Linked DNA regions of Homo sapiens. The protein of the gene in region 2 purifies or fractionates together with the protein of the main gene of each other region. This does not show direct contact. Each region holds a gene or a part of one and is shown on either strand. Other genes may lie near its edges. The genes, in order: ATXN7, RAB3D and RASGRP1.

Region 1 (3,652 bases), on a different chromosome or scaffold from region 2:
CTCATCAGTGGTAATTTTACAGTTATTTTGGTGATTAATACTCTCCATCTCTTTCATTAGACTGTAAGCACCACAAGCATAGGGAACACGTGGTTATTGTGCTAAACCCTTTATTCCCTGCGACCTAGAAAGAGTGAGGCCTGTGCTCACAGATGTACGTAATAAAAAGTTCTACAATGAGTGAATGGACAAAGGCTACAGGAGTCACAAATCTCTCCGCGTGGAAGGCACAGAGGACTTTCGACGGGATATTAGACAGATGAAGAAGTGAGGAGGGGCAGTGAGGATGGGAGACAGACAACAGAGAATGAGTAATGGGAATGAACAGCAGCAAATCCCCTGACGGTGAAGAGAACAGATAACGTTCTAAGTCTAAGACAGAAGAGACCTGGCAGCAACTTGGGAAACACTCAGGGTAGGGACATGCAGGCATGTTTAGCCCTACCAAGCTTAATAGATTCAGACCAACGTGAAGGCAAGGAAAAGGAAAAGAACTGACAAAACAATGAAAAAAAGTCAAGTCATCCTGTAAAAGGGCAGGCCTGGTGGATGCTGCATTTTCTGCCAGTTCTATGCTGATCTCATGACAAGCTGGGTCTCAAGACTTATTAATGCAATGACAGGCTTAGCCCAATGCCACGGAGAGTAATGACACCCTTAAAGAAGGACGACAAGGGGAGCATATATCATTTGAAAAGGAAGATGTGAGAAAAATGCAGACCCATTCAAAGTCACTCCACCTAGCAATAAAGGCACAGGAAGAATGCCAGTCAAGCTCCTTGAAGATTTTGAGTTGAAAAAAAACTTTTGGCAACCTCACTTCTGGGTAGTTATCCAAAATAACTGAAATCAGAATCTCAAAGAGCTATTAGAACTCCTATGTTCACTGAAGTATTATTTATAATAGACAAGATGTAGAAACAATATAAATGTCTGTCAACAGGTGACTGGATGAAGACAACATAGTATATACATACACTGGAATACTATTCAGCCCTTAAAAAGAAGGAAATTCTGCAATATGCTACAACAAGTATGAGGTAAGCTTGAAGACATTATACTAAGATAAATAACCCAGTCACATAATGACTAAACACCGCATGATTCCACTTATATGAGATCTATAATCAAACTCACAGAATCAACAACTAGAGTGGTGGCTGCCAGCGGCTGAAGGGAGAGCGAAATAAGGAGTTACTAATCAATGAGCATAAAGTTTCAGTTATAGCAAGATGAACAAGTTCTAGACATCTGCTGTATAATATTCTTTCACAGTCAACAATACTGTCTTGCACACTTAAAGGTGTGGTTCCCTGCCACGCTTTGTAAATGACTGAAAAAGAACATCTTGGGTTTGAAAAAAGCAAACCTCATTGCCCACAGGTACTGTATTACTGAGAAATCCATGTTACTGAGAGTCAGGTAGGCAGGAAGAGCGCAGAAGGAGAATGGCAAGTTGTGATCATGATGTGGACAGGGCTGAGGCATGCTTTCACACATTCTCTTAGGGACAGCTGAAACTGACATAATTCTACAGAACTCAGGTGGCTATCTTCATACACCACCACCACTACACCACTGTGTGTCCAATTAGTACCCTATACAAAAAAAAAGCAGTTTGTTTTATGAGAGTTTTTAACCTAGAAATCCAAGGATGGGCTTGGGGTGGGGGTGTCCATTAATCCAAGATAGAAAAATTCAGAATGTGTATGTGTATGCACTATTTTATTCTCGGAAGATGGACCGTGGTTTTTTTTTTTTAAAAATGAGATATTTAAAGGTACTCTTGACCAACCCTTTTCCCCAAAAAGGTTCTGAACCACTGTTGTAAGACAAAATCTATATACTAAAATTAAATTAGAAGCTTAAAGTAAGAACCACTTAAAAATTTCCCACTCCAGAAGACTGTAACATGCCTCCACTGGCTGGGGCATGGGACAGGGCCTGAAGTCCTTTATTCAAATACACTTTAATAAAATTTAAAGTAAAACACTAACAATTTTATTAATTTTTAGAAGAAAATGCTAACTTTTATCATTTTTACTTCCTCCCTCTAAGGTTTTAAAATTACATACTTCAAAGCAGTGACTCTGAATGCTTCTTGAACCTATCTGGGGGGTAGCTGGGGACACCCTCCAGAGAAATGCACATCAACATACAAGCTCATTTATGTAGAGGTGTTCACTGATGACCTGAAGCCACCCCACATCAATAACCCACACTTTTCAGCAAATATACCTTATTAGCATACTGGCATTTTAAAAGAAGGAAGACCCCAGAGCAAAAAGGAAGACCATTACATTTTCTTAGCTTGTATATAAATTATTAATATATTTTATCTAGTTTTTTTTTTCTCTTAAAAGAGATGGGTCTCGTAATGTTCTCCAGGCTGGACTCAAACTCCTAGGCTCAAGCAATCCTTCTGCCTCAGCCTCCCCACTAGCTGGGACTTACAGGCATGCCTGGCTTGCAGTATTTTTTTTTTAAACTAGAAAACAGGGATATTTCAAAATCACAGATTTTTTAAAAAGTGGTTCTTTAAAATTTAAGACCATGGGTGACACATTTTTTAAATGTTCATACACACGCAAGGGAAATTTCTGCACTTGCTTTAAGCCAGTATAATTTAAAGCACAGTCAAGGGTAGCCTATATGGAAATATTAAAAGTTTTTAAAAATAACAGACTGGGAGAGAACACTATTCCTGTGGATACAACACTGCTCATTAGAAACAAAACCTCTGTCAAGATTATAATTTATAACAACGCACTTCACATTTTGTCAATCTGAGGCTTTCTTCAACAGAACCAAGTTATTCCTTCACCTACACAATTCACAACAATCCACAGAGCATCTTCTCTGGGTTAGAGAGACTGTGGGAGTAGTGTGGTACATCCCAGTCACCCATGTTTATCAGGATGGTCGACTTGACTTTCAGGAGTCCACCTACCTTGCATGTCAAAGACCGGGTGCAGGGCTTCTTGGTGTCGAGATCAATAACCCCACAGTGGATGTCAGGATCAAACTCTCTTTCTGTCAAAAGAACACAGGCATTACATGTGGCCTGACAAACTCTCCTCCATGTATTTTTTAAGCAAGAAAATAGAAGAAATCAACAGTTAGATAAATTATAGCTGGAATAAAAGCCACATTATCAATAAAATAAAAAATATACAACGTGTGAGTGCTGCAACAAAGCAGCAACATCACTAAGACAGGGGGTGACTACTGCCATCAGATGGTAGAAAAGATATTGTTTAAGTCTGTATTACTTCCTTCAGAAATACACCACTAGAAAGCTACTTTTACATGACACACACACACACACACACACACACACACACACACTCATGCTCTTTAAAACCCAAGAGTGAAAAGAACAAACATATTAACTAAGGAACTTCCTCCTAAAGCTGAAGTTGACCAGTTTTAAAAATAGGAATTCTAGATTGCAGTTGATTTGCTCCCCACGAATGCCCATTTAATATATAGAGAAGCATTATGAAGAAAGAAAATTTGAAGTTACCTGATAATCTCTTATTTAAAAATTTCCTATTATTGGAATTGTCTTCAGGTTTCTTTTCCAGAGTGGGCGGTGCAGGAAGCCCTTTGCCATTCAGAATCTGTCCAGGTGAAGGCAAGGTTGGCTTTG
Region 2 (3,652 bases):
GGCATGAGCCACTGTAATACTGTGCCTGGCGGGAAACAGTATTATTCCTGGGGGTCTGATTGCGGAGATGATACTAACCTAAGACATGTTTGAAGTACTTGTGACACTAGCGTGGTGGCTTATGCCTGTAATCCCAACACTTTGGGAGGCTGAGGTGGAGCATCACTTGAGCCCAGCGGTTCCAGACCAGCCTGGACAACATAGCGAGATCTCATCTCTAAAAAAAACTTTAAACATTAGCCCAGCATGGTAGCTCCCGCCTGTAGTCTCAGCTATTCAGGAGGCTGAGGCAAGAGGATTGCTTGAGCCCAGGAGTTCGAGGCTGCAGTGAGCTATGATTGCACCGCTGCATTCCATCATGGGTGACAGGGCAAGACCCCATCTATTAAAAAAAGAAAGAAAGAAAAAAGAAAGGTCCCAGGTGCTGGTGACCAACAGGGAAGAGTTTTGGGTACCATCTTAGAGGGGACCCTGGGACCCCCATTGGACCGACCTGGTCTGCAGAGTCACACCTAGCTCCCTCTCCCAACTTAGCCGCTGGTAACAATCATCGTGGTAGCAAGAGTACCAAGGTGTCCTGTCAGGATGGTACCATCTGGCCCAGTTGGTTCTTAGAGACAAGGTCAAAGGGGCTCATAAGTCTGTGAGAGGCCACTGACCCCTGAGACTTGGAACCCCTCAAGGGCAAGCCCAAGTCTCTCCCTCATCAGACTGGGGAGATCCCTTGGTAATGAATCCATGCCTCCCCCATCAGACTGGGGTTGTGAGGGCAGGATCTGTGTATTCTCCATCAGACCAGAGGTTGTACAAGCAAGTCTGTGTCTCCCCCGTAAGGCTGGGGCTATGAGTACAGGGCAGTGCCCCTCTAAGACAGGGGTGGACTGGGAAACAGGTAGTTCCCAGCCAACTGCCACTGCCATTTGTCCAGGACACAGCGGGCCAGGAGCGCTACCGCACCATCACCACGGCCTACTACCGGGGAGCCATGGGCTTCCTGCTCATGTATGACATCGCCAATCAGGAATCCTTTGCCGCTGTGCAGGACTGGTGAGTGCTTGCTGATCATGGACCCCTGATCTTTGCCCTCTCCTCTGACCCCTAACCCCCCCGGCTCATGGCTCACCACTGGTAACTCTGCAGGGCCACGCAAATCAAGACCTACTCCTGGGACAACGCCCAGGTCATCCTGGTGGGGAACAAGTGTGACCTGGAGGACGAACGTGTTGTGCCTGCTGAGGATGGCCGGAGGCTCGCCGACGACCTTGGTTAGTGCCCAGCCTGGGCCACAGGCCCTGGTCTCCCAGAACCAAACCCTCATCCCCATCCTCTGATTCAGGGTCCAACCCAGTCACTGATCCTTTGAGGATCTGCCCAGGAAGATACCCATGTGTATGCCACATGTCCCGTCTAATTGCAGGGGATCCACGCGCAGGAACTCCCACTGCCCCACTGCCTATCCCCTGGGAACCCAGCAAAACCATTTCTGGAAATTGATCCTAGAGATATCCTCACCCATGTGGGATATGGTGTGTGGAGTGTAGTAGTAGTATTAGTAGGAGTGAAACCTACAGATCCCCCCCAGGTGTCTCACAGTTGGAGAACCAAGTGGACATAAAGTATATTCACATGGTGGAATACTATGCAGCCATGGAAAAGGATGGGGATGTTCTTTATTTTTTTATTTTTTATTTTTTTGAGACGGAGTCTCGCTCTGTCGCCCAGGCTGAAGTGCAGTGGCGCGATCTCGGCTCACTGCAAGCTCCGCTTCCCAGGTTTATTTTATTTTTTTGAGTTGGAGTCTCACTCTGTCACCCAGACTGGAGTGCAGTGGTGCCGTATTGGCTCACTGCAGCCTCCACCTCCCAGGTTCAAGCAATTCTCCTGCTTCAGCCTCCCAAGTAGCTGGTACTACTGGCGCGTGCCACATGCCCAGCTAATTTTTTATATTTTTAGTAAAGATGGGGTTTCACCATGTTAGCCAGGATGGTCTCCATCTCCTGACCTCGTGATCTGCCCGCCTTGGCCTCCCAAAGTGCTGGGATTACAAGCGTGAGGCACCATGCCTGGCCTTTTTTTTTAATTTTGCGTGGAGATAGGGTCTCGCTATGTTTCCCAGGCTGGCCTCGAACTCCTGACCTTAAGTGATCCTCCCTCCTCAGCCTCCCAAAGTGCTAGGATTGCAGGCATGAGCCACCACACCAGCCCAAGGGGATGTTCTTTATGGTTTGTTTTTGTTTTTGTTTGAGATGGAGTCTCCCTCTGTTGCCCAGGCTAGAGTGCAGTGGTGCGATCTTGGCTCACTGCAACCTCTACCTCCTGCATTCAAGTGATTCTCCTTCCTCAGCCTCCTGAGTATCCAGGATTACAGGTGTGCGCAGCATGCCTGACTCATTTTTGTATTTTCAGTAGAGATGGGGTTTTGCCATGTTGGCCAGGCTGGTCTTGAACCCCTGACAGGTGATCCACCTGCCTCAGCCTCCCGAAGTGTTGGGATTACAGGCGTGAGCCACCGTGCCTGGCTGTTTTGTTCTAGCAAAATAGTGGATACGACTGCTTTCTTTAGTCCAGGAGTCAGCAAACCTTTTCTTAAAGGGCCAGATAGTAAATATTTTTGGCCATACAGTCTCTATGGCAACTACCCAACTCTGCATGACAGCAGCCACAGACAATGCATAAATGAATGGGTGTGACTGTTTGCCAATAAAACTTTATTTGTGGCCGGGCGTGGTGGCTCATGCCTGAAATCCCAGCACTTTGGGAGGCTGAGACAGGCAGATCACCTGAGGCCAGGAGTTCTAGACCAGCCTGGCCAACATGGCAAAACCCCGTCTCTACTAAAAATGCACAAAAATTAGCCGGGCATGGTGACAGACGCCTGTAATCCCAGCTACTTGGGAGGCTGAGGCAGAAGAATCACTTGAACCTGAGAGGTGGAGGCTGCAGTGAGCCGATATCACGCCACTGCACTCCAGCCTGGGCAATGGGGGGAGACTCTGTCTCAAAAGAAAAAAAAAAAAAGGAAAGAAAGAAACTGATGCTTGCAATCAGTTTTTAACCCCAGCTTTCCCATAAGCCCCATCCAAGCCAGCACCCTATGTGCAAAATTCAGAAGGCACAGGAAGAGACTAAGGCAATAACCCACTCCCCACCTGCAGTTCTGGTCTCCCAGCTTCTCTGATTCTTGTATCTCTTTCCAGAAATATGCTGAGCACCCACAGGCATTGACAACACATTGGCTACTTTTTTGTTTTACACAGATGTTCCCTACTGTATATACCCTTTCCTGCACTTTGAACTTTTCTACTAAATAATATATCCTAGAAATATTTCTCTGCCGGGCGCAGTGGCTCACGCTTGTAATCCCAGCACTTTGGGAGGCCGAAGAGGGCGGATCATGAGGTCAGGAGATCAAGAACATCCTGGCTAACACTGTGAAACTCCATCTCTACTAAAAATACAAAAAAATTAGCCAGGCGTGGTGGTGGGCGCCGGTAGTCCCAGCTTCTCGGGAGGCTGAGGCAAGAGAATGGTGTGAACCCGGGAGGCGGAACTTGCAGTGAGCCAAGATCACGCCACTACACTCCAGCCTGGGTAGAAGAGCAGGACTCTTTCTCAAAAAAAAAAAAAAAAAGAAATATTTCTCCATCAGCCC
Region 3 (3,652 bases), on a different chromosome or scaffold from region 2:
CCTTGTAAATAGCTGTGTGAAGGAAAACCCCACCATGGAGCGATCTATTGCTCTGTGCAACGGCATCTCCCAGTGGGTACAACTGATGGTTCTCAGCCGCCCCACGCCGCAGCTCCGAGCAGAAGTCTTCATCAAGTTCATCCAGGTGGCTCAGGTGAATAACTGGTTTAAGACATTTGGCTTGGGCTATAAGGTAAACTTTCTATCCCCTTTTCCTCCAGCTTAGTCTATTAATTAGAGCTGTTTTTTCCCTCCTGAACCATGGCGAGGGGGTGGAGAGGTTTGTGTGCCTTCAACCAGATCTAGATATGGTGACTTGTCTCTTCTTCCATACAAGGACAGTGTGGAGGGGAGGGGGCCATACAGGCCATATCAGGGGTCAGGATCCAGTTTTAGATCTGTTTAGACCTTTAACATTTTTCAAAAGATGCTTACCAGCCTACATTATTTTCCCGAGTCTGGCCCACATGGCAAAGGAAAGGGCAATTCTAAGATTTACTGGAGCTGGACCATCCTGGATTGTCTTAGGTCTTTAAGCCCATGCAGTGCTGAATGGCTGCATTTAATGTTTGAGGGGCATTTTATAAGAGGAAAACAAGTACTATGAACCCATATTTGAAGTTCCCCAGAGATTCTAGCTTCTCTGTCCCAGTTACTGTCCTATATAGGCACTGGCATTGCATGGGAAAATAAGACAAAGTCCTTACCCTCAAAAATAAAAGTCTGGTAAATTTGGAATAAATAAAAGATTACACTTAATAATATCTTTCTCCAACTCTGGATGGTCTAGACCAGTGTTTCTCAAAGTCAACAGCTCTGACTTTGGATCACCTGCTCTGATATTAACTAAAGGTATATTAAAAGTACAGATCTCCAAGCCTAACCCCAGATCCAGGCAATCAGAATGTCTGGGTTAGGTCCAGAAACCATTGTGTTAAACAAATACTTGAGGTGATTCTAAGAAAGCACTGATCTAGAAGGTGGTCCACAGATCAGCAACAACAAAAGGAGAGAGATGTAATGCCTCCCAGATGTGGAATCCACCAGTCTGAATAAAGCAGAAGGGGAGACATGGACAGGAAATTGCAATGCCTCGTAACTAGTCTTTAACCAGCGTAAGGGAGACTCACGGCACAGAGACAAGAGGCAGCCTCTAAGCTCCCCATATAACTGACATGTACAGTGACTCTGCTGTCATCTGTCTTCTGTGTCACAGAAGCTCCACCAACTACAGAACTTCAATACACTGATGGCTGTGATAGGTGGGCTGTGTCACAGCTCAATCTCGAGGCTCAAGGAGACAAGTTCGCATGTCCCACATGAAATCAATAAGGTCAGTGCTACTGTCTTCTCTGGGGCCCTTAGCAGCATTCTCAAGATGTGTGCCAACATTTTCTCCTTGGTGGGCAGCCCAGAGAGCATTTCCAACCACACCATCCCTTGTCAACCAGGCTAAGTGGCAGGGAGGCAAACCTTAAGGAAATCCATAGGATGGAGAAGTCACATTTTTTAGAGTAACTGTGATTTTGTCTGGCCTCAGACAGTGTCACTGCAAACATTCCTGCTGGACCAGTTGAAACAATGTGTGCCTCTTCCCATGTTCATAGGCCATGGAATATTCAGTTACCATCTTTGACACTGATTCCCTCGCTCCAGCTCCTTGCTCTAAAATGTGTTCTCAAAAGGAATTGTGGTTCGGTTGACCATAGGTCAGTTTGCACATTGAGTGTAGTTATATAGTGATATATTAAAAACTTAGCTATCCAGAACCCTTGAAGAATGACATTCCGGATAGTTGAATTTTACCAGATAATTGGATATGAGTTCTTCAGATACCATTTTGTAATACATAATGTTTTATTAATGAATATTTTTCTTAAATGTCCTGTACATTTTCCTACATTATTAGATTTTACAGAATATACTTTTATCTTTTATGACATAGGGCTGTTTTGCTTGTTTCTCTTTTTTATAGAAACAGGGTCTTCCTCTGTCATCAAGGCTGGAGCACAGGCTGGCACGATCATAGCTCACTGCAGTCTCAAACTCCTGGGCTCAAGCAATCCTCCCACCTCAGCCTACCAAGTAGCTAGGACCATGGGTGCACACCATTATGCCCAGCTATTTTTTAAAATTTTTGTAGAGATAAGGGTCTCCCTATGTTGTCCAGACTGGTCTCCAACTCTTGGCCTCAAGCGATCCTCCCATCTCGGCCTCCTAAAGTATTGGAATTACAGGCATGAGCCACTGAGTCCAGCTGGAGCTGTTGTTATAAATATAAACCACTGTAATATACCGAGGATATAAATGTATGGCATGGGTTAGATAATGACTGCTCTTTGAGCACTTTCATGTAAGAGGACCTTACTATACTCAAGCCCCAATCCTTCCAAACTAGCATGGAGAGGAACTCTCTTTTTAGGGAGAGATACCTAAGCTCATTACCCCATCTGTTTTTCCCAGGTGTTCAGCTCCCTTTTGGGGAGTCTTTTATTATCTCTGTTATCACAATGCTGGGCCTCTGGGGAGGCCCCCCACTTCCCAGTGGTCTGATCAAAAGGGCATCATCTTTAGTCACCTCTTCATTCCTTAACGGTTCTGCTGAAACCAGGTGGAACAGTTGAAAAGATTGCCCACATCTCAGAGGTGACAGAGAGAAATAGTCACAGAGATTAAGAAGCCTTCATGTCATTTAGCTTATAAGAGAGAGCTTGCTCCTCTTCAGCTTGGGGTCCCCCCACAGCAGTGCTTCCTGTCGGTAGCTACTTGACCCTCAGGGTGGTCTGCATAGTGAATTAGTAAGTCCAGGGTTGAAGCAAAAGTCCCCAAGTTGTTGATTTCACCTTCGGAGGGGAATAAAAATATCTTTATCATTTTTGCTGTTACACTCTTGTCTTGTGAGCCCCTTCCATGCCTAGGGCTCACCTGCACCATTGGTAGAGGTTTATGAAGAAGAAGCTCTCTTGCCATCTCCCAGTGATTTGAAGGGGTCTGACTCCAAGAACTCCAAGTTCTTCATTGTGGAGAAATGGTACTTCGTAGGCCACAATTTTATTAAGTTTGGGCACAGTGTCTAAAAGGGTTACAGTAGTCCCCCTTATCTGAGGTTTTGTCTCCTGTAGTTTCAGTTATCTGAGGTCAACTGCAGTCCAAAAAAAATTTAATGGAAAATCCCAGAAATAATTCATAAATTTTATTATTTATTTATTGATTGAGACAGTCTCACTCTGTCACCCAGGCTGGAGTGCAGTGGCTCAGTCTCAGCTCACTGGAATCTCCGCCTCCCAGGTTCAAGTAATCCTCCTGCCTCAGGCTCCCAAGTAGCTGGGACTACAGGCGTGTGCCACCACGCCGGGTTAATTTTGTATTTTTAGTAGAGACGGGGTTTCACCATGTTAGCCAGGCTGGTCTTGAACTTTGGACCTCAGGTGATCCGTCCACCTCGGTCTCCCAAAGTGCTGGGATTACAGGCATGAACCACCACGCCTGGCCAATTCATAAGTTTTAAAATGCATGCTGTGCTGAGTAGCATGATGAAATCTTAAGCCATCCCATTCCATTCTTTCTGGGACTCCTTCATATCAGTCACTAAGTAGCCGTCTTGGTCATCAGATTGACTGTCATGGTATTGCAGTGCTTGTGTTCAAGTAAC

The links.
Region 1: the proteins of RAB3D (region 2) and ATXN7 purify together in Homo sapiens (affinity purification with mass spectrometry; one large-scale study listed by BioGRID and IntAct). This does not show direct contact.
Region 3: the proteins of RAB3D (region 2) and RASGRP1 purify together in Homo sapiens (affinity purification with mass spectrometry; one large-scale study listed by BioGRID and IntAct). This does not show direct contact.

Annotation. Positions count from the first base shown.
Region 1 is NC_000003.12:63,982,320-63,985,971, reverse strand, and holds part of ATXN7 (ataxin-7), read right to left. Parts: coding exon 3,527-3,652; intron 3,034-3,526; coding exon 2,951-3,033; intron 1-2,950. UniProt on the Homo sapiens protein: Acts as a component of the SAGA (aka STAGA) transcription coactivator-HAT complex. Mediates the interaction of SAGA complex with the CRX and is involved in CRX-dependent gene activation.
Region 2 is NC_000019.10:11,333,060-11,336,711, reverse strand, and holds part of RAB3D (ras-related protein Rab-3D), read left to right. Parts: intron 1-928; coding exon 929-1,047; intron 1,048-1,140; coding exon 1,141-1,265; intron 1,266-3,652. UniProt on the Homo sapiens protein: The small GTPases Rab are key regulators of intracellular membrane trafficking, from the formation of transport vesicles to their fusion with membranes.
Region 3 is NC_000015.10:38,509,285-38,512,936, reverse strand, and holds part of RASGRP1 (RAS guanyl-releasing protein 1), read left to right. Parts: coding exon 1-154; intron 155-1,216; coding exon 1,217-1,333; intron 1,334-1,838; exon of another isoform or gene 1,839-2,843; intron 2,844-3,652. UniProt on the Homo sapiens protein: Functions as a calcium- and diacylglycerol (DAG)-regulated nucleotide exchange factor specifically activating Ras through the exchange of bound GDP for GTP. Activates the Erk/MAP kinase cascade.